Homo sapiens: one gene and its partners. The protein of the gene in region 2 interacts with the protein of the main gene of each other region in a pairwise test. Each region holds a gene or a part of one and is shown on either strand. Other genes may lie near its edges. The genes, in order: NFAT5, DDX17 and CFAP418.

Evidence for each region.
Region 1: the proteins of DDX17 (region 2) and NFAT5 interact in binary tests that used the Homo sapiens proteins (3 or more experiments, as listed by UniProt).
Region 3: the proteins of DDX17 (region 2) and CFAP418 interact in a two-hybrid assay, tested with the Homo sapiens proteins (one study listed by IntAct).

What each region holds. Positions count from the first base shown.
Region 1 is NC_000016.10:69,567,351-69,577,783, reverse strand, and holds part of NFAT5 (nuclear factor of activated T-cells 5), read right to left. Parts: intron 9,290-10,433; coding exon 9,236-9,289; intron 1-9,235. UniProt on the Homo sapiens protein: Transcription factor involved, among others, in the transcriptional regulation of osmoprotective and inflammatory genes. Binds the DNA consensus sequence 5'-[ACT][AG]TGGAAA[CAT]A[TA][ATC][CA][ATG][GT][GAC][CG][CT]-3'.
Region 2 is NC_000022.11:38,487,418-38,497,850, reverse strand, and holds part of DDX17 (probable ATP-dependent RNA helicase DDX17 isoform 1 precursor), read left to right. Parts: intron 1-1,913; coding exon 1,914-2,055; intron 2,056-2,804; coding exon 2,805-2,965; intron 2,966-3,048; coding exon 3,049-3,221; intron 3,222-3,719; coding exon 3,720-3,830; intron 3,831-4,079; coding exon 4,080-4,141; intron 4,142-5,735; coding exon 5,736-5,795; intron 5,796-9,735; coding exon 9,736-9,972; coding exon of another isoform or gene 9,973-9,978; intron 9,979-10,433. UniProt on the Homo sapiens protein: As an RNA helicase, unwinds RNA and alters RNA structures through ATP binding and hydrolysis.
Region 3 is NC_000008.11:95,265,080-95,275,692, forward strand, and holds the start of CFAP418 (cilia- and flagella-associated protein 418), read right to left. Parts: upstream 4,123-10,613; 5' UTR 4,111-4,122; coding exon 3,956-4,110; intron 3,812-3,955; exon of another isoform or gene 3,757-3,811; intron 1-3,756. UniProt on the Homo sapiens protein: May be involved in photoreceptor outer segment disk morphogenesis.

The DNA of each region.
Region 1 (10,433 bases), on a different chromosome or scaffold from region 2:
ATAGAAGTATAGAAATGCACCCATTTTAAATGTTCTATGAGTTTTTTTAAAAAGTATGTATGTTTGTGTAATCACATGGTCAAGACAGAGAACATTTCAATCATTCCGTAAAGCTACTTTTGGTCCTTTGTAGTTAATCCTGCCCACTCCAGCCCCAGGCAACTACTGATCTGCTTTTTCTTACCATAGGTTTGTCTTTTAAAGAACTTCACATAAATGGGTCTATACAGTGCGTACTCTTTACCTTTTTGTTGTCGTTCAAGCACCACAACCTTCTAAAAGGGAACACAGTATTTTTAAAACTGGGTATAAAGGTAATAAATTTTTTGTTCTTTTATAGATTCCTATATTATTCCATAATATAGCCAACCATATATTTTTCATGTATATGTGCAAGTATAGGTTACTTAGCCATAATAGTGTTATTTATTCATTCACTCAAGATGAATTTACACATAGGTTCTGGCCCATGTTGCTTATAGCTTATTAGAAGAGACTAAACCACAGGGGGAGGGTTAACTTCTAAACTACAATTTACAATAGCAAACCTCCTTTATAGACGTTTGTTTTCAGAAGAAGGGAAATAGAGAAAGGATACAAGATGCCATAGCAGAACAACAAAATGTATAGACTACCGTGAGAAAACGGATACACGGGGTGAAAGGGGCAGATTAAAAAAGACAAAGCAGAAAGAACCAAAGTAAATTAATAAAGGCTCTATGCAAAATACCACTATTCACATAGCTCACATTAGTACTATTTCTTCTGTTGCTCATCTCTTCTTGAATTTACTTTGTCTCTGAAACATACTAGCAGAAATAGGGAACAATGGCATCCATGCTTCCATAAAACTACTGCCAAAGAAATCAAGAGCCCCACGGCACCTTCATTTCTAAAGTAATTCCCCTTAGGTGGTGGCTTCTGCTTAGCCTTCTCCTACTTTTCACTTCTGAGTCCCATCATCAGCCAGGAGAGAGGTATTTCTTGACCTCCTGGGCTCATGTGATCCTCTCACCTCAGCCTGCCTCCCAAGTAGCTGGGACTACAGGTGCGTAACACCATCCCTGGCTAATTTTGGTAGAGAGGGGGTTTTGCTACGTTGCCCAGGCTGATCTCGAACTCCTGAGTTCAAGCGATCCGCCCACCTCAGCCTCCCAAAGTGCTGGGATTACAGGCGTGAGCCACTGAGCTAGGCCAACATAGGTGTTTTGATCAGCCATCACTTCCTCTAAATGTTAAAGACACTCACCAAAGCCAGGCAATGATTTGCTAATTTTGAGTATTAAAATCTTCCCCAAAAGAGTCATAATCATATTCTTTATGAATTTTTGTATGTAGTTTATAAAATTTGTCTCATTACTTTATGGAAGCTGCTTAGTAAAGAATCCTACACAAACTATTCTTTTTATACCATCTGAACAATGGTGTAATCTTATTAGGGCCCAAAGTATAAATGCCAATTTCAAACGTTCTTTTTTTTTTTTTTTTTTTTGAGACCGAGTCTCACTCTGTCGCCCAGGCTGGAGTGCAGAGGCGCCATCTCCGCTCCCTGAAAGCTCCACCTTCCGGGTTCAAGCCATTCTCCTGCCTCAGGGGACTACAGGTGCCCGCCCACCACGCCCAGCTAATTTTTTTGTATTTTTTTAGTAGAGACGGGGTTTCACCATGTTGGCCAGGATGATCTTGATCTCCTGACCTCGTGATCCGCCCACCTCGGCCTCCCAAAGTGCTGGGATTACAGGCGTGAGCCACCGAGCCCGGCCTCAAATGTTCTTACTGACTGTTAAGACAGTCAATATAATCTCACAGCTCTGGGGTAAAACTGGTGAAGTTCAAATTCCAGCCTCATCCACGAGATATGTGCCCTTGGGAAAATTAGTAGATCCCTCTGTACCTCAGTTTGTTCATTTACGAAATAGGGATACTGGTACTACATCGCAGGATTTTTCTAAGAGTTAAATGTGAAAAATATATGTAAAATGGTGTTAAACATAAACTGCTTGACATATAAATTGCTCAAAAAAGGTTTTCAATTATTACTAACACTGAATTTATTCTTTTGACTAGCATGTCCTACAAAGATTGCCTCAGGTACAGTTTTTTTTATTAAAACTAAATTTTTTTCTTCTCTTGCTTTATTTATTTATTTTATTATTATTATTTTTTAAGACAGGGTCTTGCTCTGTTGCCCAGGCTGGAGTGCAGTGGCATGATCCCATGATCATGCAGGCTCAATGCAGCCTTGACGTCCTGGGCTCAGATGATCCTCCCACCTCAGCCTCCTGTAAAACTAATTTTATAAAGATAAGCATAATCAGCCAGGCCCAATGGCTCACACCTGTAATCCCAGCACTTTGGGAGGCTGAGGCGGGCGGATCACCTGAGGTCAGGAATTCAAGACCAGCCTGACCAATAAGGTGAAACCCTGTCTCTACTAAAAACACAAAAATTAGCTGGGCATGGTGGTGTGCACCTGTAGTCCCAGCTACTCATGAGGCTGAGGCAGGAGAATTGCTTGAACCCAAGAGACGGAGGTTGCACTGAGCCCAGATCGCACCACTGCACTCTAGCCTAAGCAACAGAGAGACTCCGTCTCTAAATAAATAAATAAATAAATAAGCATAATCAACAACTTAGCTCACTATTAGAAACTTTTCTGTTCTTCTCTCATCTTCAAAACTAAATACCAAATTCAGTAAAAGACTAATCACAGTGTTTCCTGAATGAAAAAGAAGTGATAAACATTCATGGGTGGGAAGCAATAATGATCATTACCTATTTACCACATAAATGTTAAAAATAAAAGAGAATGGGCTGGGCACGGTGGCTCATGCCTGTAATCCCAGCAGTTTGGGAGGCTGAGGGAGGCAGATCACCCGAGGTCAGGAGTTCGAGACCATCCTGGCCAACATGGTGAAACCCCATCTCTACTAAAAAAATACAAAAAATTAGCTGGACATGGTGGTGCGTGCCTGTAATCCCAGCTACTTGGGAGGCTCTGGTGGGAGAATTGCTTGAACCTGGGTGACAGAGGTTGCAATAAGCCAAGATTGTGCCACTGCACTCCAGCCTGGGTGACAGAGCACGACTCCGTTTCAAAAACCAAAAAAAAAAAAGAGAAAAGTATATATTTTTCAAAAGCTATTAAGAACAAATAAAAGTAACTGAACTCTCATGTAACAAATGTTTAGTTCAAATGATTAAATATATATATCCTTTATTACATCAAGTTTATTTATTCTGAAAGCTAGATCCATTATCTGTAGTTAACTCATAGAGGAAATCTCTACCTTTTCACTCAAGTACATAATTATCATTGGTCTTATACTCTGTTAGTTTATTTAAACTTGACTTTTATTAACACAAAAGCAAACAGAAGACACAGCAACCTTCTTTGCGTAACTTGAAATAAAATCTTAGCAACAGCAAGAAAAGACAATAATACAAATTAATAAGCAACATTTCTATTGAAAAATGTCTTTTACCTCTCTAAAGTTAAAAGGTCTATATCCTATGCCACTGAATAATCTTTATTTTTTTCTAGTTACCTGTTACTCTTAATATAAAATATACTCTGAGGAGTCAACTTTTTCATATAAAAAGTGTCTGTTTTGGCCGGGCGCAGTGGCTCACGCCTGTAATCCCAGCACTTTGGGGGGCCGAGGTGGGTGGATCACCTGAGGTCACGAGTTCGAGACCAACCTGACCAACATGGAGAAACCCTATCTCTAATAAAAATACAGTATTAGCCAGGTGTGGTGGTGCGCCCTTGTAATCCCAGCTACTTGGGAGGCTGAGGCAGGGAAATCGCTTGAACCTGGAGGTGAAGTTGCGGTGAGCTGAGATTGCACCATTGCACTCCAGCCTGGGCAACAAGAGCGAAACTCTATCTCAAAAAAAAAAAAAAAAAAAAAGTGGCTGTTTTTTATATATAATACTAATCACACTGGGAAATGTTTTTCTGTACTACCACTTTGAAATTTTAGGGGACTCCTGGAATAATCAGAGTCAAGAGTAAATTAAAATCAGGCCAAGAACCACTGGATTAGAATATGAATTTATATCCTTTTATTTTAAATAAGCAATAGAATTCCAGTATTGAGTGAAAATAATGAAAGCAGAGTTTAGGAAGGGACACAAAAACAGGTGGTAAGCAATCAGAAAGAGATGGATCTAAAGACAAGAAGCTGGGATGAACTAGGTATGACTTTTGACATGTTTGAACTTCATTATTTCCATAATACTTTTAGTTTACTAGACATGGATCCACAGAGATTATTAGATACTAAACAAGAAAAGAATTCAATAGATTATTTTTCATGTTAAATGTTTTCAAAAAATCCTTTCCAAAAAGGTATCTTTGTACATAAAATATTATAGGCATTTATGATCTATGATATAACAAGGGCCCTAGGAAGAAATATAAATCAGAAATATTCTATAAAGTCAATAAAACATTGCTACTATGTTTAGGATTTTCCATTTTTGCACTATGAAGTATAATTCTGGATGGTACCATATCAAATAGATTAGCAGTAGTAAAAAAAAAATCATAGTTTATTTTCTCTTAACTCATTGTCATATTTCACATTTTCTTTTAAAAATCTTCCGGTCTTAAATGTTTAATTTAAACAAAGATTGTGGCCGGATGCGGTGGCACATGCCCGTAATCCTAGCACTTTTGGGAAGCCATGGAGGGTGGATCATGAGGTCAAGGGATCGAGGCCACCCTGGCCAACATGGTGAAACCCTGTCTCTACTAAAAATACAAAAATTAGCTGGGTGTGGTGGCACGCGCCTGTAGTCCCAGCTACTCAGGAGGCTGAGGCAGGACAATCACTTAAACCCAGGAGGCAGAGGTTGCAGTGAGCTGAGATCATGCCACTGCACTCCAGCCTGGCAACAGAGTGAGACTCTGTATCAAAAATAAATAAATAAATAAATAAATAACAAAGATTATATCAGATCAGCATTTAGCTCTTATTTAACCAGTTCTTTCATTTGATATATAATCTCTTAACTCATGCTTTTAAAATCATTAAAATTGTTAAATCTATTGTTTATATTTATCTATTTTTCCAATTTGTTTATACTCTTATTTTTCCTGTTTTATCTATGATTTTTCTATAATCTTATATTTCTCTATTTCTAGAATGATTCATTCAGTTTCATTTCTATCTTAGTTTTTCATTTGCCAAAATGAATAGTTTTCATTATAGAATGTACAACAAATGGTGCCTTTTCTCTGCAGCTGAATTTTTTTCCCAGGCACTTCAAAAAGGAATCCTAGCCTTCGAATTTGAACTTACTAATGGCAAACAATTTTATTTAAAAAAAATATATAAACCATGTTCTTTAAAGATGGAAAATACAAAAATAGAATTGAAAAATAGAAAATCAGTGATGTATACTTTTGTTCAGGATTTTTGTAACACAAGTTACTTTGAATATAATTGTAACAGCATAATTTTTATTTACTTATTTTATTAAGAGTGTCACATGTTAATTATGGGGTTACCAGAAACATCATTTAATGGCCATGTATTATAACATTAATTAATTAGCCAGGACCCTTTTCCCATTGTCAGGCAATCATCGTATTAAATTTAAAAAGAGGTTGCAAGAAAGACTAGCACTGTTTTGATAGGAAGGTTAAATGCAAACTCAGTTGAATAGTAGACATTTTGAATCTACTTCTAAAGTTTAATAATACCCAAGCGCAGGCCAGGTGCGGTGGCTCACGCCTGTAATCCCAGCACTTTGGGAGGCTGACGCAGGCGGATCACGAGATCAGGAGATCGAGACCATCCTGGCTAATATGGTGAAACCCTGTTTCTACTAAAAAATCCAAAAAAAATTAGCCGGGCGTGGTGGCAGTCGCCTGTAGTCCCAGCTACTCAGGAGGCTGAGGCAGGAGAATGGCGTGAACCCAGGAGGTGGAGCTTGCAGTGAGCCGAGATCGTGCCACTGCACTCCAACCTGGGCGACAGAGCAAAGACTCCATCTCAAAAAAATAATAATAATAAATAATAATAATAATACCCAAGTGCAGGTTTTCCAACCTTGTTTCCCCCCAAAAAAAAAATTTAAATTTGGAAAACGTACGTTCTATAAAAAAATTAAATTATATCACACCAATTACTTAAATTCCCCTCACTCTGGGCCAAGTTTTTAAATACTATTTATAGATGAAAATCTAGACTACTGATGTAAAACATGCATACATAAATATTACTAGACAGAACTTGATAGTATATACCATTGGGAGTTAGTACAGCACAGTAGTCAAGAGGCTAGGCTAAAGTGAGACTACCTGGGTTGGAATTCTGGTTCTACAATTTACTAGCTTGTGACTCTGGGTGAGTTATGCCTTCAATTGCTCATCTCTAAAGTAGGATAATAATAACCATCTCAAAGGGTAGTCAGGAGAATTCGCTGAGTTCTTATTTTGTTTGTTTGTTTGTTTGTTGTTGTTTTTTTGAGACAGAGTCTCACTCTGTCACCCAGGCTGGAGTTCAGTAGAGTGATCTTGGCTCACCACAACCTCTGTCTCCCAGATTCAAGGGATTCTCCTGCCTCAGCATCGCGAGTAGTTGGTATTACAGGTGTATGCCACCATGCCTGGCTTTTTTTTTTTTTTTTTTTTTTTTTTTTAGTAGAGATGGGGTTTCACCATGTTAGCCAGGCTGGTCTCAAACTCCTGACCTCAAGTGATATGCCCACCTCAGGAGTTCTTATTTGTAAAGTTCTTGGCACACAGTAAACACTCTACAGCTAGCATTTAGTTTTTAAAAATTTTTTAACTTTAGCTAACATTTACTGAGCACTTAGCATGTGCTAAATTAAATGCTTTACACGAATTTGCCTCAAATAATCTTCACAAAAACCTAGGATGAGGCACTATTATTGCTCCCGTTTAAAGATGAGAAAATTGAAGCAAAAAAGATTAAATTATTAGGCTAAGGCCATACAAGTAAATGTCAGAGCAACAATATGAACTCCAATCTAGCAGCATGGCCTACAATTTCAACATAGGTTATAGGATATACTATATACTAGAAGCGGTAGCCTCCTGCAGCACTCTGTCTTGAAAAGAGGGCAGGAGAGTCACAAGAGACTTTGCTGAAATAAACTAGAATATTCCAAGAAATAGTTTATAAACTATACAGAGTAATTAAAAATTAATACAATAATTATATTAACAATTAAATTATATCAATAATAATTAATATAAGAAAGTCACTGTAATACAGAAATACTTATGTATGAAGTGATCTGATGTTTGATATTTGTTTTAAAATAATCCAGCTTGAGAGAGAAGAAGGGATAAAAGAAGCAAGATTAGATACTGGTTAAACTGTGGTGATGGGTATATGGGGCTTATTTTATTCTCTCTACTTTTATGTATTCTTTAAAATGTCAATAATAAAAAAGAAATAGCAATGAGGTGGCACAGATTAGACACTTCATTACAGAAGCAAACAACTTTTTTAAGACACCCTGTCTCAAAACATTTTAAAGGGCATGACAGAATTGATACTTATACATGTTATATTTTATATATAATTTCTAAAAGGGTAGCCTTACTTTAAATGAGAATCCCCTTAACTAAAATGAAAAATTAACGAAAGTATTTAGGCATAAACATGTAAATAAACATGCTAAATGGTTGTCTGTATTTCCATCAGCTCACTAAAAATATTTGCTTAAATAATTAACACTCATTTTTTTCTTCATGTCTTTCTCCTCCCTGATCATCTCTATGATTATGACACTCTATGGTTTGTTGTCCAGGAAATGAGATGGGTTTGTACAGACAAATATGTCTCTACAACATGGTCACAAATTGAATATGAATAAAAACCAGAAATCTGCTTCACTAAGAAACACTGCTAAAAATTTCTCACTTCAAATTGTAGTTTTAAAAATATTTGATTTTCATACTAATGTATATCTATGGGCTTCTTACACGTACAAAACAAATTTAACCAATTATTTATTTGAGAACATTTTATATGCTCTAAATTATACTGTTAAAAAAATTTAGCTGATACTAAAGGAAAAAACTAACATTTATTAAGCTAGACGCTATGCTAGGCAATTTAATACACATTAGCTCACTAAATTTAAGAGACAGCTACATTTTAACAGGAAGAATATTAAAGTTTAGAGAGGTAAAATCACTTGCCCGAAGTCACAGAACTAATAAGGAGCTAAGTTGGTATTCAAATTTAAGCTCAACTACAAAACCCACTTGCCCCCCACTATCCCGGACTACCTCCAAGGGAGGCAAAAATCTTCTCAAGTCAAACTTAAATATTTAGGGCCTTTTTAAAGTAGACCATAAAATGTTTGTTACTGGTTACATGTGTATTTCACGGTGGCCGCTTTGCATAAAGAGCACTAACTGAAACGCAGAAAGTATTATTTCTTCTACTGTGGGACTTTTTTTTTTTTTTGGTTTCTTAATTTCAGCCTTAGTTTCTCTTCTCTACAATGGGGAAATTAGTACCTTTGCTGTCCAATTCCAAAATTATAAAGATTTAAAGATGATATATGTGAAATCACTTCAAAATCTACAAAAACACAAGACTATTTTATGTCTTAAAATGTTAAAACACACACACACACAAAGCCAAAAGTTTTCTAAAGTAAGTGTAAGCTGTTTAAACTAATCTACAGACTCTATTAACATTTCCAGAACTTTCTAAACCCCTTTCTTCTAAGCATAGCTCAATCATCATCGCTATTACTTGGCTTTCCTTACCCTTAAGTATAATGCAATAACAATGGCATCAATGCTTTTGCAATAAATAATTAACATATTTTGAAATGCTCAGCATATAAATGTTCTAAATTCTGAATTTTCAAACTAATTATGTGTTTGGTGTCACTCTTTTATATTCATGTTAATGTTTGGGCCTTTTCACATTCTATTTTGTGTATAAAAAGCTAAAATGAAGGTCTGGAATTCTAAAGTAGAACACTCAACACATAATTTAAAATGATTTTTTTTTCAATGTTTCTCAAAGCAGATAGAACAGCCAACAAGCACATCAAACGCAGCAACAAAACCCATTGAAACATTCAGCTGCTCTAAAAGAAGGATCAGACTCTTTAGGAGAAAACTACATTGTGTGAGTTTGCAAAGTTTCATACTTTCCCATTTAAACTCCATTTCAGAGAAAGCCTTTGCATACTAACACAATATGCTTTAAAATGGTACTTTGCTGACCTTCCAATAGTCCAGCTCTATGAAAATTCTGTGATGGGTGTAACTTCAGAGAATCTGAAAAACACAAAAAGCATTAGGTACTTTTTATGCTGAATGAGGAAAAAAATGCCAAGGATAGCATACATCTCTTATATAACTGCAATGTGTGTGTGTGTATATATATATATATATACACACACACACACACACACACACACACACATATATATATATACACACATACATTTTGAAACGGAGTTTCGTTCTTTTTGCCCAGGCTGGAGTGCAATGGTGCGATCTCGGCTCACCGCAACCTCCGCCTCCCGGATTCAAGTGGTTCTCGTGCCTCAGCCTCCCGAGTAGCTGGGATTACAGGCATGCACCACCACGCCCGGCTAATTTTGTATTTTTAGTAGTGACGGGGTGACGGGGTTTCTCCAAATTGGTCAGGCTGGTCTCAAACTCCCGACCTCAGGTGATCCAACTGCCTCGGCCTCCCACAGTACTGGGAATACAGGCGTGAGCCACTGCGCCCGGCCAACTGCAGTGTATTTTTAAGCGCTAAAGCCCATATTTGTGAATATATTCCCCGCAAAAGAGGCTGAATTGTCTCTACATTGGTCTCGAAGCTAAACTTAGATTTTCATAAAGTATATGTTTCATGGAAAATTATCTGATGATTACTCCCCAAATGGTGTTAATGTCTTGGCTATTTTTAGCACTCAATTCTAACACATTAGCCCTGCTCTAAGAATCATCTCTTGATATGTCTCTTTTTTTTTTGACATTCAAAACTACAATATTTCTAAAGTACCTCAGGTAATGTTGCCCGAAAAACATCCTACAGGATGGTGGCTGCCAACTAAAGTCATTGGAGCAACAGACAGTGGCTACAATTACTAAGTAGGACTCTGTGTACAAAATCAATGGTCAGTCTGTAAAGTCCAGCACCTTTCAGAGTAAACCATCTCACTCTGATTCACTTAAACAATTTAGATACACTAGTAGGAAGGTGAAGTCCCTTTTTTGGAGGGGGTGGAATAAGCAAATGGATGGATACATCAAACCAAAAGCAGAAGAAACACCTACATTTTTTTTTACACGGTGAAATGAATAGTTAACAACCCAGTTATGTCTTTTGCCCCCTCCCGGTGGTTTAAAAAGCGTAAAGAGCGCAGTGGGAATATTTTGGTTTTGAAGCCCCTTGCACAGGGAACCT
Region 2 (10,433 bases):
ATGGGCATTTACTGTGCAGTAAATCAAGTGTTTTCTGGTTTTGGTGTGGTTTTTTTTGTTTTTTTGTTTTGATTTTTTGTGTTTTTTTGAGATGGAGGTTCGCTCCGTGTTGGTCAGGCTGGTCTCAAACTCCTGACCTGAGGTGATCAGCCCACCTTGCCCTCCCAAATTGCTGGGATTACAGGCATGAGCCACTGCGTCCAGCCTTCTTTCTTTTTTTTTTTTTTTTTTGGAGATATATTCTCACTCTTGTTGCCCAGGCTGGAGTGCAGTAGCGAGATCTCAGCTCACTGCAACCTCCGCCTGCCAGGTTCAAGCCATTCTCCTGCCTCAGCCTCCCGAGTAGCTGGGATTAAAGGCGTGCACCACCACTCCCAGCTAATGTTTGTATTTTTAGTAGAGACAGGTTTGCACCATGTTGGCCAGGCTGGTCTGGAACTCCTGACCTCAGGTGATCTGCCTGCCTCGGCCTCCCCAAGGTGCTGGGATTACAGGTGTGAGCCACCGCGCCTGGCATTGAATGTGTACTTTTTTTTTTTTTTTTTTTTTTTTTGAGATGGAGTTTCGCTCTTGGTTGCCCACGCTGGAGTACATTGGCACAATCTCGGCTCATTGCAACCTCCACCTCCTGGCTTCAAGCGATTCTCCTGTCTCGGCTTCCCAAGCAGCTGGGATTACAGGCATGCGCCGCCACACCCAGCTAATTTTTGTATTTTTAGTAGAGACGGGGTTTCACCATGTTGGCCAGACTGGTCTCGAACTCCTGACCTCAGGTGATCTGCCTCGGCCTCCCAAAATAATGGGATTACAGGTGTGAGCCACCACGCCCGGCCTACTTAACTTTTTTAAGAAATAAGCTTGCATTTGTCCTATATATTTATGAACATGTACAATATGTCTCAAGATATTCACAAAAAGAAATAATGCAGTACTTATAATACATAGTATATGTCTGACAGCATTATTATTAGTTGATATCTAATGGATCAGTATATAAAGCAAGTTTCATAATTTAATTTGAATGGTATATGATACCTTGATTTTTGTATTATTTGGCCAGATTGTACACAGTCTTGTCAGATTACATGTAAATTTTCATTGTTTTTGCCTTATCTACCTGGTGATGTGCTTAAATTAGAGGTCAGGAATGTGTCATTCTGCCAGTTTAAGTCAGGATGACCATCCAAAATTCCAAATTTTAGGCCAGGCATGGTGGCTCACACCTGTAATCCCAGCACTTTGGGAGGCCAAAGTGGGCAGATCACATGAAGTCAGGAGTTCGAGACTAGCCTGGCCAACATGGGGAAACCCCCATCTCTACAAAAATACAATAATTAGCTGGGCATGGTGGTGCCTGCCTCTAGTCCCAGCTACTCAGGAGGCTGAGGCGCAGGAGAATCATTTGAACCCAGGAAGCAGAGGTTACAGTGAGCCTTCATTGCACCACTGCACTCCAGCCTGGGCGATAGAGTGAGACTTTGTCTCAGAAAACAAAACAAATCCAAATTTTGAGGACCAATATGATCCTCAAAGTAAATGCTTGCTGGAGCATTTTGGTTTTGGGGGTTTAGGATGCTCAACCTGTAAATGAGAGTTGTATACTTAAAACCAGGTAATACAATCTATATCTCCACTTAAACAGTATATATAAACTATAATGATTGATAATGTGTCATAGTAAAAGTGACGAGGATACCAGTATCATTCCAAATGCTAAACATGAAGTTCTAATAATTTTTTTCTATATTCCATTGTGCTAATATTCCCCACTTCTGATCTTCACCCCATCACTTTTAATGTGCTAGATTAGACAGCAAAGAATTAAATTAGCTTTTTGTATTTTGTTTCTTCTTTTTTTTTTTTTTTTTTTTAAACCTTGGATGAGGTCTCAAGTGTCTTTTTGTTGGTTTCAGTGTCTAGTTCTGGCTCCTACCAGAGAGCTTGCCCAGCAAGTACAGCAGGTGGCCGATGACTATGGCAAATGTTCTAGATTGAAGAGTACTTGTATTTATGGAGGTGCTCCTAAAGGTCCCCAGATTCGAGACTTGGAAAGAGGTAATAATATATAGTGTAAAAGAATTGTTAGTTTATCTTACTTTACCAATTCCTGTGGAGGAAATTGGAGAAAAAAAGTGGGTTCTTGTGATAAACTCAGAATTTCAGCAGCTTAGAAATTCTCAGATGTGACTAAAACAGCTATTTTGAGAGAGAAGGTTCAGCATGGCTGGAAACTTTGTGAGGATTTGGTGATTGTACATAAGTCCTGACATGGTTTTGCGGTTACTTTGTTAAAATTTAGCTTCTCTGGGCCAGTGCGGTGGCTCATGCCTGTAATCCCAGCACTTTGGGAGGCCGAGGTGGGCGGATCACGAGGTCCAGAGATTGGGACCATCCTGGCTAACATGGTGAAACCCCGTCTCTACTAAAAATACGAAAAATTAGCCAGGCGTGGTGGCAGGTGCCTGCAGTCCCAGCTACTGGGGAGGCTGAGGCAGGAGAATGGCGTGAACCTGGGAGTCGGAGCTTGCAGTGAGCCGAGATCGTGCCACTGCATTCCAGTCTGGGTGACAGAGCAAGACTCCATCTCAAAAAAAAAAAAAAAAATAGCTTCTCTGCAGCATTGAGTACAGCCACCAGGGCTGCTGCTGCTGCATTTTTGTAGAGTCGGGGTCTTGCTATGTTGACCAGGCTGGTTGTGAACTGGCCTCAAGCGATCTTCCCGCCTCCTCTTCCCAAAGTGCTAGAACACAGCTGTGAGCCACTGCACCTAGTCGATTGGCTCGATCATTGGTTTTGTTTTACAGGTGTTGAGATCTGCATAGCCACTCCTGGACGTCTGATAGATTTCCTGGAGTCAGGAAAGACAAATCTTCGCCGATGTACTTACCTTGTATTGGACGAAGCTGACAGAATGCTTGATATGGGGTTTGAACCCCAGATCCGTAAAATTGTTGACCAAATCAGGGTGTGTAAAGCTAATAATAAGCAGTCTTTATGCCATTTGTCCAAGTTCCTTAGCCTGAAAGAAAGCCTTTCCTTTTTTGATAGCCTGATAGGCAGACACTGATGTGGAGTGCAACCTGGCCAAAAGAAGTAAGACAGCTTGCAGAGGATTTCCTTCGTGATTACACCCAGATCAACGTAGGCAATCTGGAGTTGAGTGCCAACCACAACATCCTCCAGATAGTGGATGTCTGCATGGAAAGTGAAAAAGACCACAAGTATGAAAGATATTTTACTCTGATTTGATAATGCTGATAAACCTTTTCTAATAACCCTCCAAAATTAGTACTGTAGAAACCAGTATATTTTGAGGCCTGAGAACATTAAAAGCATTGCTAGGTTTCTGATAATCCATCATCATATCATTTGTCAGAGCATTATGGTTAAATGCAAGGATTCTGAATTCTTGAGTTTGAAATTTAGCTCTGCTGATTACAAGCTGTATAATTTTGCACAATTTTGTGTCTTGGTGCTGCAGTTTCTTCATCTGTGAAATGGGAGTAATACCACTTACATGAGACTTGCTGTGAGGATGGTATGAGTTAGTATTTCTTGAGCACATAGCAGAACCTGACTCAGTACTCTAATAGTTATTAAAAATTTTAAAAGCGTAATGTGCAAAGAAAGTACTGTAGCCTTGGGAGTTGATATTGCAGACATAATCGTCCACATAATAACTTTCTGTGTGATGACTGCATTGTTGGTCATGTTTTCAGGTTGATCCAACTAATGGAAGAAATAATGGCTGAAAAGGAAAACAAAACAATAATATTTGTGGAGACAAAGAGACGCTGTGATGATCTGACTCGAAGGATGCGCAGAGATGGGTGAGTATAGCACCAAGGCAATTAACCTCTGGTTTTATAGTTAACTGGAAATTTCTAAATTGGTATTCCAAATGTTGTGTAATATTTCAATAATGCCTATCCATGCAGTTTGCTCTTTTAATGAGCACAGTCATCTATTCATGAAGCCTGACAAACCTTACAAAAATTGCATGATAGCATTTGGCTTTAAAGTTCGATTTTCTCCACTTTAAAAGATTTTTAAAATATTGGTCACTTTTCTTCTGATAGTTGGCCAGCTATGTGTATCCATGGAGACAAGAGTCAACCAGAAAGAGATTGGGTACTTAATGGTAAGTTTAAAACTAAGCATTTTCTGTTGATTCCCCACCCCCTGCCCATAAGTGAATGTTCATGCTCTATTTCAGGGATAGGCAAACTTTCTGTAAAGGGCCACATAGTAAGTATGCTTGGCTTTGTAAACCAAATGGTGGTCTCTGTTATAGCCACTCAGCACTGCTGTTTTAGGACAAAAGCTGTAGGCTGTAGATAATATGTAAAGAAGTGGCCTGGACTGGGCACCGTTGGTGGCTCATGCCTATAATCCTAACACTTTGGGAGGCTGAGGCGCGTGGATCACCTAGGCCCAGGAGTTCAAGACCGGTCTGGGCAACATAGTGAAATCCTGTCTCTAAAAGAAAAACAAAACAAAACAAAACTTAGCCAAGCTTGGTGGTGCACGCCTGTAACCCCAGCGACTCCGGAGATTGAGGTGGGAGGATTGCTTGAGTCTAGGAGACAGGTTGGAGTGAGCCAAGATCGTGCCACTCCAGCCTGGGTGACAGGGTGGGACCCTGTCTCAAAGAGATAAACGTGGCTATGTTCAGACAATATTTATTTGCAAAAATAGGCGTTGTGCCAGATTTGGCCCAAAGGCCAGTTTGTCTTACCCCTGTTGTATAGTTGATTGAATTACTGAGGGTACTTTTAGCGTGTGCTCATGGTTCTTTAAGGGCCACGATGCTGGCTCTTTAAACTTTTTCACAACTTTCACCACCCTCCCTTTATTAATAAAGTCTTCAATTTTTTCCTTCTGATTATAAAAATATAACTACCGTTTGGGGAGAATTAAACTGTTACTGAAATATTTAAAGAAAAATGTTTCTTAATGAGTCATATTTTAGCATATTTCCTTTCAGTCCTTTTTTTCAGGACTACTCTTAAGGGAAGCCATTGAGAAATGGAAGAGGCCATATTTTGTTTAAGAAATAAAATGTGGCCGGACACAGTGGCTCACGCCTGTAATCCCAGCACTTTGGGAGGCTGAGGTGGGCGGATCACCTGAGGTTGGGAGTTCGAGACCAGCCTGACCAACATGGAGAAACCCCGTCTCTACTAAAAATACAAAATTAGCCGGGCATGGTGGCATATGCCTGTAATCCCAGCTATTTGGGAGACTGAGGCAGGAGAATCGCTTGAACCCGGGAGGTGGAGGTTGCGGTGAGCTGAGATTGCGCCACTGCACTCCAGCCTCGGCAATAAGAGCGAAACTCCATCTCAAAAAAAAGAAAGAAAAATAAATAATATGCATACCTTTTGGGGGGAAATTCAGTTCTTTTCATTCTACATCTTTTGAACTTGTTTCCTACTGACCCCCAACTTTTGGTTGTGTCTCATTTGGGAAATAACTTTAAGGGGAAAAAAATCTAGCTCATATTAATTATGTAACAAATTGCCACACTCTCTTAACGGTATTTCATTATTAGTAGAGGTAACTATTGTGCTGCTGAATATGAGTGTAATAAAGATTTTCAAAAGAATCACTGTCAGTCATTACAAGAGCTTGGGATTTTCTGGCACCATTATTTGAAATTTTAACATGGTTATGTAAACAGATCAGATAGCAAGGAATGCTTATTTGATGATGATTATTGTTTGTTTTTACAGAGTTCCGTTCTGGAAAGGCACCCATCCTTATTGCTACAGATGTAGCCTCCCGTGGGCTAGGTTTGTATAGATAGGTGTCTCTGTCAATGGTATATGTATCTTTTGGTTTAAAGATTCGTCATTTCAAATTCAGACTTCAAGTTTAGAAAGTTGTATATACATGTGGTTAGATAAATATTTGAAAGAAAAAAATACAAAGCGTGATTCTCCCCATTCCCTGCCCCCCCCACAATTTTTTTTAACTTTGGTTTCCCCCACCCCCCTTTTATTTTCAAAGTCTCTTCCTGCTCCTAACAAACAGGCTTTGGTCTGCAGCAAGGCCTAGGCATGACTATTCAAACAGAGGGAGAGGAGACAGACAGCTGAATGGCTCAGCTTCTCTCTGGTGGTGGTTTCTGGCTGGATAGAATAAGCCTGACGAAACCTAGCTATTGTAAGCTAGTTTCTTCAGTTATTCTTTTCCCTATCCCTGTCTAAGCTAGATATATACAGAGAGGTCCAGTTTTATGAATGCTTATTAGATGGAATTTTATAAGTCTAATGCAGTATCAGAATAGCAAATATGTGTATTGCCCAGTTTAATTTACTGAGGTCAAATTATCATGGGCACTTGGCTATCCCCTCCTACCCATGCACTTATCTGTAGGTGTGTTATCAACTGATGATTTTCTGGAGTTTTTGACCCATTACCATTTAAGATATACAGAGAATTTTATGGTAGTTTAGCCCACTATTCTGAGCTAAACAGGTCTAACTCAGAACTTCTATATTTTAAAAAAAAAGATTATTTGTATTACAAGGAAATCCTTAAATTATTGACAGGTATTTAATTTGCCCAGTAAGGTGAGAAGTACCATATTATTCCCTTATACTATATAATATAAAGAGAACAGGTATTCAAACTGGAATACAAAAGTAATGAAGCCTTTTTATGCATTGCACTCATCATTCCCTCCTTCAGAGGTGGTGACCTGCAGCCATGATGGAAAGTTCTCTCTGCCCCTCTGCCCTCTGAGGTCATGTCTGGATCTGTGCCATTAGAACTTGGGCCTGTTGGGAGAGGAGGCGGAGGCCTGAAAGCAGTTTACATAAAGCTTTCAGTAATGGTTGGTTTTTAAACAGGCTTGCTATGTGCTGGTAGCTTCTTTGTGCATCTTGCCTAGACAATTAAAAATATTTGCTCCATGTCCCCTTGCATTTCTAAACCAAATTAATTGGCTACCATTAGAATAACTTAGACTCTTCATCCCACCCCCACTCATCCAAGTGAGGGGAGAGGGAAGGTACCCGAGTCTGTTTCTTGTTACTCAACATCAGTGCTTGTTTTGGGCCCCTTTGTTTGCTGCCTTGTAAAAAATCAAAAGAGGGAGAAAACCCACCAAAATGGCAGAATTCTGACCAATGTCCTACAAGATCCTGGAAAGTGAAGGCTTCTACCTCATAGACAGGGGTGCAATTTTCAGCTGAGTCACCAGGGCCTTTTTTCACTTCCTGTCAAGCGATGGTCTCTTAAATGTTCCCTTCAGGTAAGTTCTTTGATTCCCATAATTTTATAATAGTCATCCTTAGGCTACCACTTCCCTTTCCACTGGGATATTTTTTATTTTTCCTTTTTTTTGTTTGAACTACACACTGTTAAACTAAAAGTATTGAATTTATTTTGTTTTGTTTTTTAACAGAAGCTTTGATATCAGCTGCAGATCACTCAATACATGGCCGAGACAAATCTACATTGGCCGGAAGCAGCTCTAGATGAGCCTCTTGGCTAGACTTAGTCCCTCCTTATTAGTGATTGGCGATTCAGGCCATGTCATAGGGCCTTTCAGACAAAAGGTTCTTATCCCAGTCAGCTGGCCAAAACATTAACTTTGGATTTCTTACCCTGCTACAGCATCTTCTAGAAAGGCAGCAAGATAATATTGTGGCAGTGCACAGATAACATCAGGGTAGACTTGACTGGAGAAAACCAAATTCTGCGCTTGCTCCTGTGTGCCCCCATCCAGCTGTGCATGCACACACAGGACACCTTTCTAGTATGAAGAACTTGCATCATGTCTGCCCTCTATTGAGCACCCCCTTCTAGAAATACTTCCAAGTATTAGCATGTGAACTGTTGACTCCACCCTGGTGCTTTCTGCTAGGAAAGCACACTTAACGCATCCAGTGTAGTAATTGAACTTGTTCTACTGCCATGGTCATATGCAGTGGGATTGCATAAGGAGCATTATCCTAGCTCTGAAGATACCATGGAGTAGAATTCCCCACCCCCTGTCTTACATCCACCCTGGCCCTGTAAATTCTTTTTTCCTTTGTTGCGTCAACGACCCTAGCCGGAGACTCAAGCTGCCCCCTGTGATAAGTGCCTTCTCGTCTTTCTGGTGTGATTCAGGACTTTAGGGGTCAGTAAAGACCGAGGAGCCTTTATTGTAATAAGAAACAGACATAATGCCCCTTCTTCACAAGCCCTGTAACAACAGCTAATTTTTTTTTTTTAATCTCCCCTTTCTCCCTTGAAATTAATCCAGTCTGGGCAATAGATGCAGTCTGACCCTTTGGATGTAACTTACATTTTTTTTTATTAATTATTTTTTTCTACAATCACCCCAATTATCCTTGGGGGAGGCGTTGGAGGACCTGAAATTTTTACCCGAACCCAGGTTCTCCGGCGCTTGGCAACCAAATGGGGCTACAGAGAAGCATCTAAGCCAGTTCACAGAGCGAGCGTGTGTGGGGACTTCTCACTGCCACGGACCCTTGATGCATGCTCCCCGCGCTCCAGTGGTCCCGTGTCAGAAGGCGGAGTTTTCGAAAGGAGGCCGCCAAAAATAAAAGGCAAAGAGACGGGATCGGCTGCAGCGGTTTCCCAAAGGAGGAGGGAGTGTGCATCGGTCTGGTAACAAACAGAGAATGTTTTTTAATTATTTATATCACAAAAATCTGTGTTTTATCTAGGATATTTTCTGAATATTCTTTGTAAAATGCAGATTTTTTTCCACAAAACAGTAGGATTCTTTGTTATATTCTTAAAATTGTTTGTTTAAGTAGGTAAAAATATACATTCAGCTGAAAGCATTACACTAACATTTACATTTTAAGCCTTAGGAGGTTATTCAGCCCAATTCCCAGCAGTAGAGAGAATACTAAACTTGTGTCTCAAGGTTTCATGGTTTTCCCACGTTCTTTGGCTATTAATTTAATTTCCCAGGTCACGTAGACAATCATTGATAATTGAAACAAGTCCTGAGTTGAAATAACCTTGAGTTGAGCAAAAATATCCTCATTTTGGCAGAAGCTGGGCTTGGTAGTACAGTAAAATTTTAGTGTAATGTGCTCTTGTAATTGAAAGGGGATAGATAATCTGGATGTTTCTGCAAAGGAAAATAGGTGTGTACTTAACAGCTTTGGCTCTACTCAGTTTCTTAAAAAGATAAGAGCAAAAAAAGTTAAATGTTAATCAAAACATTTAAGTTTCCTTTAAATTGTAGTAATAAAATATATGAAGCTCCTTTTTTTACTTTGCTCTGTGACTGGTTTAAAGGTAAGTTTGTTATGTTGTTGGTAGATTTTGCCAGGCTTCTCCCAACAGAGTAGAAGTGATTTGGCCTCATAACTTCACAGTGGTTTACCACTTTGTTCTATGTTCTGGTTTTGTAAAGGATAGTACTGGAATTTGCGTCTGAAGACCAATATTGGTGTAACTCCTGTCAGTATATTGGTAAAATGTAGCAGAGGCAGGAGTTTGGATGTTTGGATGGGATTCCCTTAGGATTCTACAGCCAATAAAGATCCTATTTCCTATGCATGTCCCAGGAATCAGTAATCCTCTTTTACTCTGTTGGGATGAGTCTTTTTTTGTTTCTGTTCAGAGTGGTTACTAACTTCACCTTCTTTCCTCTTGCTGTCATCTGCATTCGTGCTTCCCACCTGTTGTTGGCATGTCCTTTACCTTCTCTTTCCCTGCCACATCAACCTACACACTGACTCATCATTGACGTGGAAGATGTGGAAGATGTCAAGTTTGTGATCAACTATGACTATCCAAACAGCTCAGAGGATTATGTGCACCGTATTGGCCGAACAGCCCGTAGCACCAACAAGGGTACCGCCTATACCTTCTTCACCCCAGGGAACCTAAAACAGGCCAGAGAGCTTATCAAAGTGCTGGAAGAGGCCAATCAGGCTATCAATCCAAAACTGATGCAGCTTGTGGACCACAGAGGAGGCGGCGGAGGCGGGGGTAAGGGTAAGTCCTGGAGTTTTCCAGGTACTGCCAAGGTATCTCTTTACGCCTTCTGTGACTTGCTTTTAGTTGCTGTTTTTAAGAAGGCTGTAAGTATGTTGCTTAATAGCAAAGGACACTGCCTAATGCTTTTTATAACCTTTTTCAACTAAGAAAACGTGAAGTTTGTTGTGATAGTCCTATTAGTTAAGCTAAATTGTGAATTTTTTTTTCTTAGAGACTGGTCTGAGGTTTGGTTTTGTTTGTTTGTTTGTTTTGAGACGGAGTCTTGCTCTGTCGCCCAGGCTGAAGTGCAATGGCGCGATCTCAGCTCATTGCAACCTCTGCCTCCCAGGTTCAAGTGATTCTCCTGCCTCAGCCTCCCAAGTAGCTGGGATTACAGGCACCCGCCAGCACACCCTGCTAATTTTTGTATTTTTAGTAGAGGTGGAGTTTCACCATGTTGGCCTGGCTGGTCT
Region 3 (10,613 bases), on a different chromosome or scaffold from region 2:
TCAGCCTTGGAATTATGGACATTTTGGGTCAGATAATTCTCTGGGGTGTGTATGTGGGGGCAGGAGACTGTTGTATATTGCAGGACATTTTACAGCATCTACCCACTAGATGCTATTAAATAATAGCACACCCTTCCCCAGGTGCGACAATAAAAAATGTCTCCAGACATTGCCAAATGCCCCTTGGGTGGCAAAATCATCACCAGTCTAGAGATACCGACTTAGTTTAAATTATTTAATCTCTCTGAAACTCAAATATTTTATCTATAAAAATGATATCTAGATGACTATTTAAAATTTCTTTCAGGTATAATATTCTACTTCTGGCCTCTAATCCCTCAACTATAGTGAAACTCTTCTCTCGAAGGTTTCCACTGCCCAAATCACTACAATCTAATGGTGGTTCTCAGTTCCAATCCTCTTTAATCTTTCAGAAGCATCTGACACTGTTGGGTACCAATTCCTTATATTTCTTTTTCGATAAGAGGTTGCTAAGATGTCCTCTTAAAATTCTCTCCTTTGGCTTTCAGGACATACTTTCCGGGTTCTCCTCCCTCATGCAATTTCACAATTTCAAGAATCAGATACATCCAAACTCCACCAACCTAATCAGTACTGTTACAGATCCAAATTACCAGCTTACATAAGATTCTGGTCTGTTCTTAGATCACACAATTTCAAAATGCCTACACTTGCCTATGCTTTGCTATAGTAATAACAATAAAGTCAACATTTCATTGAGAACTCATAATTTTAAAGGACTGTATAAGACTCTTTTTGGTCTTTTGATGTGACAATAATCTCAATCAAATGTTAATAAGCTTTTACTGGTTCCCTTTCTGACTCTGTTTCTGACATTCTAATCTTTTAAAGATATAGTTTCTGCTGAAAATAAAACATATATTTAAGATAAAATATAAACACTTAAACCTATAATTAAATGTGAGAGGTATTATATAGAAAGCTTAAATCTAGATCTACTATGTCCTTGTGATTTAGCAATATGACTTTAGGCAAGTAACTAAGCATTGATTTGGTCAATGAAATGGGGATAACAGTATTCACGCATGGGATTGTGAAGATTAAATGAAATAACATATACAAAGCACTTAGCATACAGAAAGAGCTCAATAAATGTTGGCTGTTATTATAGTTATCATCTAGAAAGCTATATTATCTTTAAATATTCCCATCTGTATCATCCTGAACCACTTTATTCCTATTGCAGTTCTTCTCAACCCACATCAGTCTTTTTTAATTTTTTTACTAATCACATATTTCTTTTTATCATTTTGAACACTTCAACAAATTGCATGTTTTGACCTCTTACATTAGCAGTTGTTCCTGGTATCCAGATGTAGCATGGTCATTTATAGTATTATTTGCATTTATAGTATCATTTTAAGAGGTAATATTAGTATTTTAACTCTTATAAGAGATACAGGTTACACTGCTATACAATTAGTAGGTAATCTCCTGTCAATAAATTCAAACATAAATTGCTTCCTAGCTTTTAAGTATAAATTTTGGCTCAAGGAAAAATTTTAATATATAACATTATAAACCAGGTTGGGACTATATTTGGTATAAGGTTTAGGCCCTTTGTTGCTGTTTTTTGTACAATTTACAACTACATTGCCAGATGAAAAGTTTTAATATAAATGACAACAGTACTGTTTCACTAAGGCTTTTATGTTACTTAGTACTAAAAAAATCTAATGTATTAAGGTGGGCTGAGGTACTAGAAATATTATGGATGAATTTTAGTAGAGCAAGAACAGGCATGACACAACCCATGGTTGGAGAAGATCCACATAAATAGTCCTTTCCATTTTGAGCAGCTGGCTTCAATACATCCTGCCCCTCCGCATGCTAGTTCTCCTAAGATGAACAGCTCTGAAAAGCTCCTTGATAGACTAGTTCTATCCCCTAGAAGGACAAACGAAAAGTACTAAAGAAATTGCAAAGCAACACTGTTGTGGGATAGGGATGGTAGATGCGCTAATAGATACATAAGGAATTCCAGTACACAAGATAATAAAAGTTAATGAGAGTGATATTTACAACATCCAGCCAAATGAGTGTTAGCCCATTCATAGTAATTATAGTTGTTTCTAATTTTTGTTTTAAAATGCTGCTCAGAACTCAACTAATTTTTAGAAATTTTGTTTATGTACTCCTTTAGAATTTTTTCGATGCTTTTATCTTCGCAGAGTGAATTTTTATAAATAAATGTCACTGACTGGGCACGGTGGCTCATGCCTGTAATCCCAGCACTTTGGGAGGCCGAGGTGGGTGGATCACGAGGTCAGGAGATCGAGACCATCCTGGCTAACACGGTGAAACCCCGTTTCTACCAGAAATACAAAAAATTAGCCAGGCGTGGTGGCGGGCGCCTGTAGTCTCAGCTACTCGGGAGGCTGAGGCAGGGGAATGGGAGGCGGAGCTTGCAGTGAGCTGAGGTGGGCCACTGCACTCCAGCCTGGGCGACAGAGCGAAACTCAAAAATAAATAAATAAGTAAATAAAATAAATAAATATCACTGGAGGTAAGCCAGGTGAACTGGATAGTAACAGAGTTGGATAATACTTTGGGAAATCACACATACACACACCAAAAAACCAAAACCAAACCAAAGATGCAGCAAAAAAATTAACGGAGATGACGTTCTTAGATTGATCCAAAGTTGCCTCCGTGTAATTTCACAAGCGTTTCCAAAATATTCTAGGCAAGAGGCAATTTCCAAAAGATTCTAGCAAGAGTTACTGAAGGTCAATATTCTTATGCAAACATTTTGTTTTTTTTTTTTGAGGGGTTGTGGGGGAAATGAGGAAGTGAAGGAAATCCTATTATTTAATAATTACATGGAGGAAAAACGACTGGTAAATTTGAAAGGTAGTTTTTAGATAAAAAACCAAAATACCTTAAGAAATGTCCTTAAATTTCCATATGTATGTCTGGCACCCTTAACTAGGGGGCCATGGAGAGAAGGAAGGTAGACGGTTTAATGTTCACAATAATTAACCCTTTTGTAATGAATTTAATCTCATCTTAACTCCCTGAGTTAAAAAAATAAAACAAACTGAGTCAGGTGCGATGGCTCGCAACTGTAATCCTAGCAGTTAGGGGAGGCAGAGGCGGGAGGACAGCTTGAACTCAGGAGTTCAAGACCAGCCTGGCCAACACAGTGAGACTGTCTCTACAAAAAATACAAATTAACCGGGCTCGTGCCTGTAATCCCAGTTTACGTAATCCCAGATTACAGGCTCGTGCCTGTAATCCCAGCTAGGGTAGGCCGAGGTGGGAGGATCTTTGAACCCGGGAGTTGGAGGCTGCAGTGAGCTACGATCGTGCCACTGCACTCCAACCTGGGCGACAGAGCGAGACTCCATCTCAAAAAACAAACAAAACAACAAAACTGAGCTAAAGACAAATAGGATTGACCTGGGGAGTGGGGTCTGAGGCAATGGGATGAGGCTGTCTAACAGGGCACCTCACAGGGAGATGAGAACCGCTTGGCCACACAGAGGCAAAATGCGGCCGAGGTCAGCACAGCCCTCTCGGGGTTAAGAACGGGGCGCCTGAGGGGTATCCCGGTCCCCGACTAGAACCTCCTACGCGCTGGCAGCCAGAAACAGGATGAAGGAGACTGGCGCGGACTGCGGGCTCTGCGGGCGGGGCGGGGCGGGGCGGGGCGGGGCGGGGCGGGGCGGGGGCCAGCCCTCTGGGGCATGCCGGGGGGCGGAGTCTGCGCTGAGTGAAGAGGTGCCAGAATCCGCGAAGAGGGTCGACGAATGCGCTGCCGCGGAGGGTAGGGCGCTGAGGGTCTGAACCCTGATGCAAGGAGGGGCTGGAGGTCGCGGGCACGTTTCTTTTGGGTTGGGCGGCGGAGGGGCAGCTCTAGGGCCTGGAGCAGGGCTTTACCAGAACAGTCCACCCCTCCCGCCCGGTTAACCTGAGCGTCTCTTTCGCCTTGGCTTGGTTCCGGTCGCTACTGTGGGTGCCGCCGCCGCAGCCTTTGGGCTGCTCGACCATACCCCGTCTTAGAAGGTCAGGTGTGCAAAACTTGGACTCGACTTCATCCAAGAGCTCGTCCAGGTCCTCCGCCATCTTGAATCGCCTGGCCTTTTCCCCTCCAATCGCCAAGGCTCCGGTGGTTTCCAGGAGTAACGAGGGGACCTGGCGGGCTCCTGCCCCGTTAGGCGTCCCCGCGCATGCGCACCGCTTCCCGTGGCAACCCGGCGCCCACGAGGGCTCGCGGCAGAGAACGCGGTGGGTTCGTGAGGGGCGGGCGTATGCAGGGACAGAGTTCGGAGCTGTCTCTGCAGTGTGTCTGTGTGACTCGCGATGCTTTGCGTTTCTTCCTTTCAGCATGTCTGGCGTGGTTCCTCCCGTCTCCCCCTCCCGGGCCCACGTTGTAACCACAAGCACGCATTCTCGCCCCTTCATTCTCTCCTCTCCCGTTTGGGTCCCTGTTGTGTTTCAGCCGTTTGTAAATTCCTGAAATCTGTGGAAGGTTTGAGCAGAACGCTCTAAAACACAAAAAGTAAGTGTTGACGGCAAAAAGCTGACATTCCCGTAGTCGGCAGGATTCGAACCTGCGCGGGGAGACCCCAATGGATTTCTAGTCCATCGCCTTAACCACTCGGCCACGACTACTGGCTGTGTGAATTTTTGCGGTGAGAGTGCATGTAGACTCTGCATAAGCGTCTGCTGCAGCAATAGGCACGTTTTGATGTGGAGGAAACCATTACTGAGCTGTTCTGTTAAGAGCATATTTGAATGTTACCTCGCTCATCATTTTACAGTTTGTAAAAGTCTTAGAACGTATCCCGTCCAACTCTTTGTTGGAAAAAACGGAAATTCTAATTAAATCCGAGAGAGAGAGAGAGAGAGACAGAGAGAGAGATGCGTGCTCAAAACTATTGCACACCCACTTGCTTGCACAATGTTGGAGCCATTTCCAGGAGAGAACCAGGAACCGGGTAGGGGCCAACCAGCTTCCCGACTTCCTTGTGGGGCTGCCAGTTCCACTCCTTCGCCTTTCTCTTTGACAAACGGCTCCCAGGACTATCTTTTCACCCATTATACATTAAAAAGCTATTACCCAGCGATTTAAATTCACTCTGCAGGGTCAGACAGTCCCACCGTGCCATAAAAGCACTACTTTGAAAAGTGTAAAGCGTGATACAAGTGTAAGGTATTGTAAATGGCATTCTTAATAAATACTGTGCATAGTTTAACCTGTGTTTTGGGTATTTCTAAAGTGGGGTAGCAAAGAGGTTGGCACCCTTGGGAACTCTGGAGATAGTTTGATCCAGATGATTTGTTTGTTCAAAGTATCTTTTAAGGTCCCTGAAGAGCAACATGTAGTGGTGTGCTGGAGCCAATGGGACATGCTCACTCCTACCCAGTGATAAATTTTCAAGGATTTTGGGAGCTAGTTGTTAAATGCAATTATTATTAAATATTAAATTATGCAAACTTGCAATTACATTATGTTAAAAGCAAATATGATACTCAAAATTCATATGCTAGTGATTCCACTACCTTTTACTATTATTTATAAATATAATTGAGATTGTTTACATCTGAAAGACTTTCTCTCTTTAACTTTCCATTCAGTGATGTCACTTGGGAAGCTTGAAATGAGCCATAGTGGGTGTTATTTACATGAGGGAAATTGCAAATGTGACAAAGCAGGGCTTTTTATCCCTAGGAGATGAAAGATACTTTGAACAAACAAATCATCTAGATCAAACTGTCATTTAGTAGAACACCCCATGTTACCATCAGACCAACTGTGAATATTCTCAGCAAGGCAACACTCCCCTTTTCTGCAGGGCTGCTCTATTTATTGTCTCTGAATCTTTGTTTTAGCTATTAGAATCCTGGCCTAAACACACACACACACACACACACACACACACACACAAATATGCATATAAACATATATGTATATTTACACACACAGGGGAAACTAGCATTTTTATGCAAAATACTTAACATTGAGCACTGACCACTCAGATCAGACACTGTCAGGATGCTTAAGTAGTATCCTAGAGGCACCCTGACATGTATTACCCTTGTAGTCAGAGTAGAGAACTCTAGAGGGTGGGGAGACAATGTTGGGGCAAGGAGGGGACTCGGACACTAGTTATTTGTCTAGAATCCTGGCATATTCTATGATTTCCAACTAATTAATTTTTTAAAGTTTTTTTCCAAGTTGCCTTGCTGGGCGATTTTACCTAGAACCGGTCTCTAGCAGAAAGGCAAGGAAAAGCTGCTTGAAAAAGCGGTCCTTGCAACATGGTTCCAGGGGAAGTCATAGTTAGTGGCCATCCAGTTTAACAGGCTTACATTAATGATTTGATTTTGCTCTTGAGAAGATGAAATCTGAGGGGATCTGTACCAATGTTGAAAGTATCTGTTAGCGGCCGGGCGCGGTGGCTCACGCCTGTAATCCCAGCACTTTGGGAGGCCGAGGCGGGCGGATCACGAGGTCAGGAGATGGAGACCATCCTGGCTAACACGGTGAAACCCCGTCTTTACTAAAAATACAAAAAATTAGCTGAGCGTGGTGGCGGGCGCCTGTACTGGCAGCTACTCGGGAGGTTGAGGCAGGAGAATGGCGTGAACCCGGGAGGCGGAGCTTGCAGTGAGCCAAGATCGCGCCACAGCACTCCAGCTTGGGCCACAGAGCGAGACTCCGTCTCAAAAAAAAAAAAAAAAAAAAAAAAGAATCTATTAGCGTGTAGAAGATTTGCAATGAGAGATGGTGAAAAAATAAAAGAGAAAATGTTTCTGGTTTTCTGTGTTTTGTTTTTTGTGTATATTAGAAAAAAATTAGTGTGTTCCCTCGCTCCCTCACTTCTACTCCCATTTTTCTGGTCTTTTGATTGGATAATTTATTCCGTTTACATTTTAAAATTTCATTTTATTGATTTTATTTACTTTCAGTAGCTTTTGGGGTACAAGCGGTTTTTGGTTACATGGATGAATTGTATAGTGGTGAAGTCTGAAATTTTAGTGCACCTGTCACCCGAGTAGTGTACATTATACCCAAAAGGTAGTGTTCTTTTTTTTTTTTTTTTTTTCCCAGACGGAGTTTTGCTCTTGCTGCCCAGGCTGGAGTGTGCAATGGTTTGATCTCTGCTCACCACAACCTCTGCTTCCTGGGTTCAAGTGATTCTCCTGCCTCAGCCTCCCAAGTAGCTGGGATTACAGGCATGTGCCACCATGCCGGGCTAATTTTGTATTTTTAGTAGAGACAGGGTTTCTCCATGCTGTTCAGGCTGGTCTCGAACTCCTGACCTCAGGTGATCCGCCCGCCTCAGCCTCCCAAAGTGCTGGGATTACAGGCGTGAGCCATCACACCCAGCCTCCAATAGATAGTGTTACTATCCTTTACCCCTCACCCGTCCTCCTCTCTTCTGAGTCTCCAGTGTCCATTATGCCACTCTGTATGCCTTTGTGTACCCATAAATTAACTCCTACTTACGAGTGAGAACATATGATACTTGGTTTTCCATTCCTGCCCACTCCCATTTTAATAAAATGGATGTATGGATCATCCAGAGTTTGGTATTTTGAGAATTTCATTTATGGCTCATTCAACTCTCCGGTGGGTCTCCTGACTTGAGTCATGTTCTCTTTCTGGTTTGCCACCGAGAGTGAAAGGTTGAGTTCAGAGTCTACAAGGAGAAATGCCATATGTCACATAAGAGTAACATATGTGTATGGCTGTGTGATAAACTGTAAAATTACAGTGCACTATTAAAATCTCCAGATGTCAGAAAGAAAGTTATACAGTTAAAAATTCAGTGGGCTCTAAACAATGGATGTGGATGTATAAGATGAAGGTAGTGTGGCTTTAGAAGATTCTACATTCAGGCAAATCCTATTAGATCATTTTTTTTTAAACCGGGCTATAAATTCCTTTGGTATAACTTTCTGTTTAACTAACAATCTTATTTCTTTCTCCATAATTGTTAACGTGTGTAGACAATGTCGTGAATCCTTGTCCCCTGTCTTTCCCAGTCATGGAAAGCATGCTGAGTGTCAGGTATTTCGTAAAGAATAGGCAAGTGCCTCCAGGTGATACAATTATTAACATGGTAAAGGAGACCGGGTGCCGTGGCTCATGCCTGTAATCCCAGTACTTTGGGAGGCCAAGGCGAGCGGATCACTTGAGCCCAGGAGTTTGAGACAGCCCAGGTGACATGGCAAAACGCTGTCTCTAACAAAAAAATTACAAAAATTAGCCAGGCATGGCAGCGCTGCACCTGTGGTCCCAGGTATGTGGTAGACTGAGGTGGGAGGATGGCTTGAGCTCAGGAGGTGGAGGCCGCAGTGAGCCGAGATAGTGCCACTGAACTTTAGCCTGGGTAAGAGAATGAGACTGTCTTAAAAACAAAACAAAAAACATGGTAAAGGGGCATGTCATGTATTATTACATTCACTTAGTATTCAAGGAAGTATTTTAGGTAAAAGGTGTCCAAATTAGGAAACCAAAGCACTGTTGGCTTTCCCAAGAATCTGAAGAACTCTCTGAGCCTGGTTTCTTGCTAGCACCATTATAAATGAGTTAGAGGTGGTGAGGCAGCTGGTTCTGCTGTCCCACGCCGCCTCAGGCCAACTGCTTCAGTTACAAGGTGTTCTGTAATCTCCCTGGCTGCTCACATAATGAATTGCAAGGCTTCTTTGAATTCCCATGTACTTAGGTTTAATTTTCCCTTCCCTGCATCTTTCCCCTGCATACTGCAGGCCTTTTAAACAAATACCCACTGGTGGGCGGTGACATTGGCATGAGGGGAGGCATCCTCCTGGATCAGTTGCAAGCCTCCTAGCAGCTGATGCCATGGAAGAATGGAGTAGCACCGAAGCAGCTCCAGTTCTTTTAAGTGGTCCCTGAATTAGGCCTCGATGTCATGTAGGTAAATTCAGCCCAGAACATGCAGAATCTTTATTGGAATTTGTACATTCATCTCTCACAGCTGTGGAGAGTTTAGACTAATCACAACTCTCACTGGGATACTATTATCTTGGTAATTTGAAAAAGGATCAGGAGCCTGCAGGCTTGGAACATCTTGAGAAAACTCTGGCTCTGAAATACATCATCACATGTGGGGGACACCACTTGCGGCATCATCGCAGAGAGCTGAAGAATGCTGAAATCAAGTATTTCTGTGGCGTGATTTCAAATAGCTTGAGAAATCTGAGAACTTTTTTTTTTTAACTGCAAAACAGATTCTTTCCTCTTCCATCAACCCGGTTGCTGTCAATATGTCCAGTGTTAGGTGCCAGAAATGAGCATAGCCTCTTAATGATAACAATGCCAAGATTAACACAGCCACCAGGGGCTCTCTCTAGAATCTGTTAGGGTGTATTTTGATCCACAGACACGTTCTGAAGGCGTGCACCTCCTTAGCTTTTCCAGTCTCAGTACATTTCTCTTCAGCAGCCTGGATAAAACCTGTCACTTTTTGCCAGAACTTCTCATGCTTTGGGGCCCCTCAGACACCATTTTTCATTGACCCCATGAGTCCATATGGTAGGGCTAGGTTCAAAGTTGGTATTTGGGAAACAGCTTCTGACAGCACAGAGGCCTGGTGTACTGCGGTCATTTGTTCAAAAGGCCAGGATTTGCAGATGTGCTATAAGAGTGTAATATAATTTTTGACCCCACCCAAATGGGTATTTTATCACCATCCACATAGCAACCAACAAACAGATGAGTCTGAGGAGGCAAGCGCTAATATATGTGGCTCAAACCAGTCAACCCTCTGAGGAGTCAGTAGTTCAGCCTCTTTTTGAGGCTTTAACATCACAGTGGTCCTTTCAATTCTACAGTTATGTGAGTACAGCTCCTTCCCTCCCCCCTTTTTCATATTGTTTTTTGTTTTATAATTTTTAAGCTTTAGAAAGTTAAGCCTAATTCAAAAAAAAATTGGGGAAATAGGGGAGGGGAATAGCAATTTCAGTCAGGCATTAAAATGAAGGCAAAGTGAAACCAAATTGATGGAGGTGATGGGACATGTTCCACAGGCCTGGGCTTAGGTTTGGTGTCCATCAGTCTTCCATTTCCCTTGATTGGCCATATTGCCTCTTGGGAAGGAACCCAAGGTTTTATGCAGACCAATTTGCTCTATTTCCTCAGTTACCGACTCACATGTCAACCAATCTTTATGGCCTTACAAAAGGTACCTGTTGGTATCGACCTTGCCATGAACTGTCTAAGGAATATTTGGGGGCTGGAAAGGACTTTAGTGATAATGTATAAAACTCTTTCAGCTGAGGTTGCAGTGATCCGAGATCACGCCACCGTACTCCACTCCAGCCTGGGCAACATACTGTGTCTCAAAAAACAAAAAAACACCTCTTTCATTTGATAGATAAAGCAATCAAGATCAAGCCCAGAGTGGTGAAATGATTTAGAAATTCTTTGACTATTCAGAGATTTTCATTATAACCATACATTGCATTCTTTTATTTCAACATCATGATGGTCATTCTGGATAAGACTCCTTCCTCTCTCCCTCCCTCCCTGCCTCCCTTCCTCCCTGCCTCCCTACCTCCCTCCCCACCACCTTCCTTCCTTCCTTCCTTCTTTC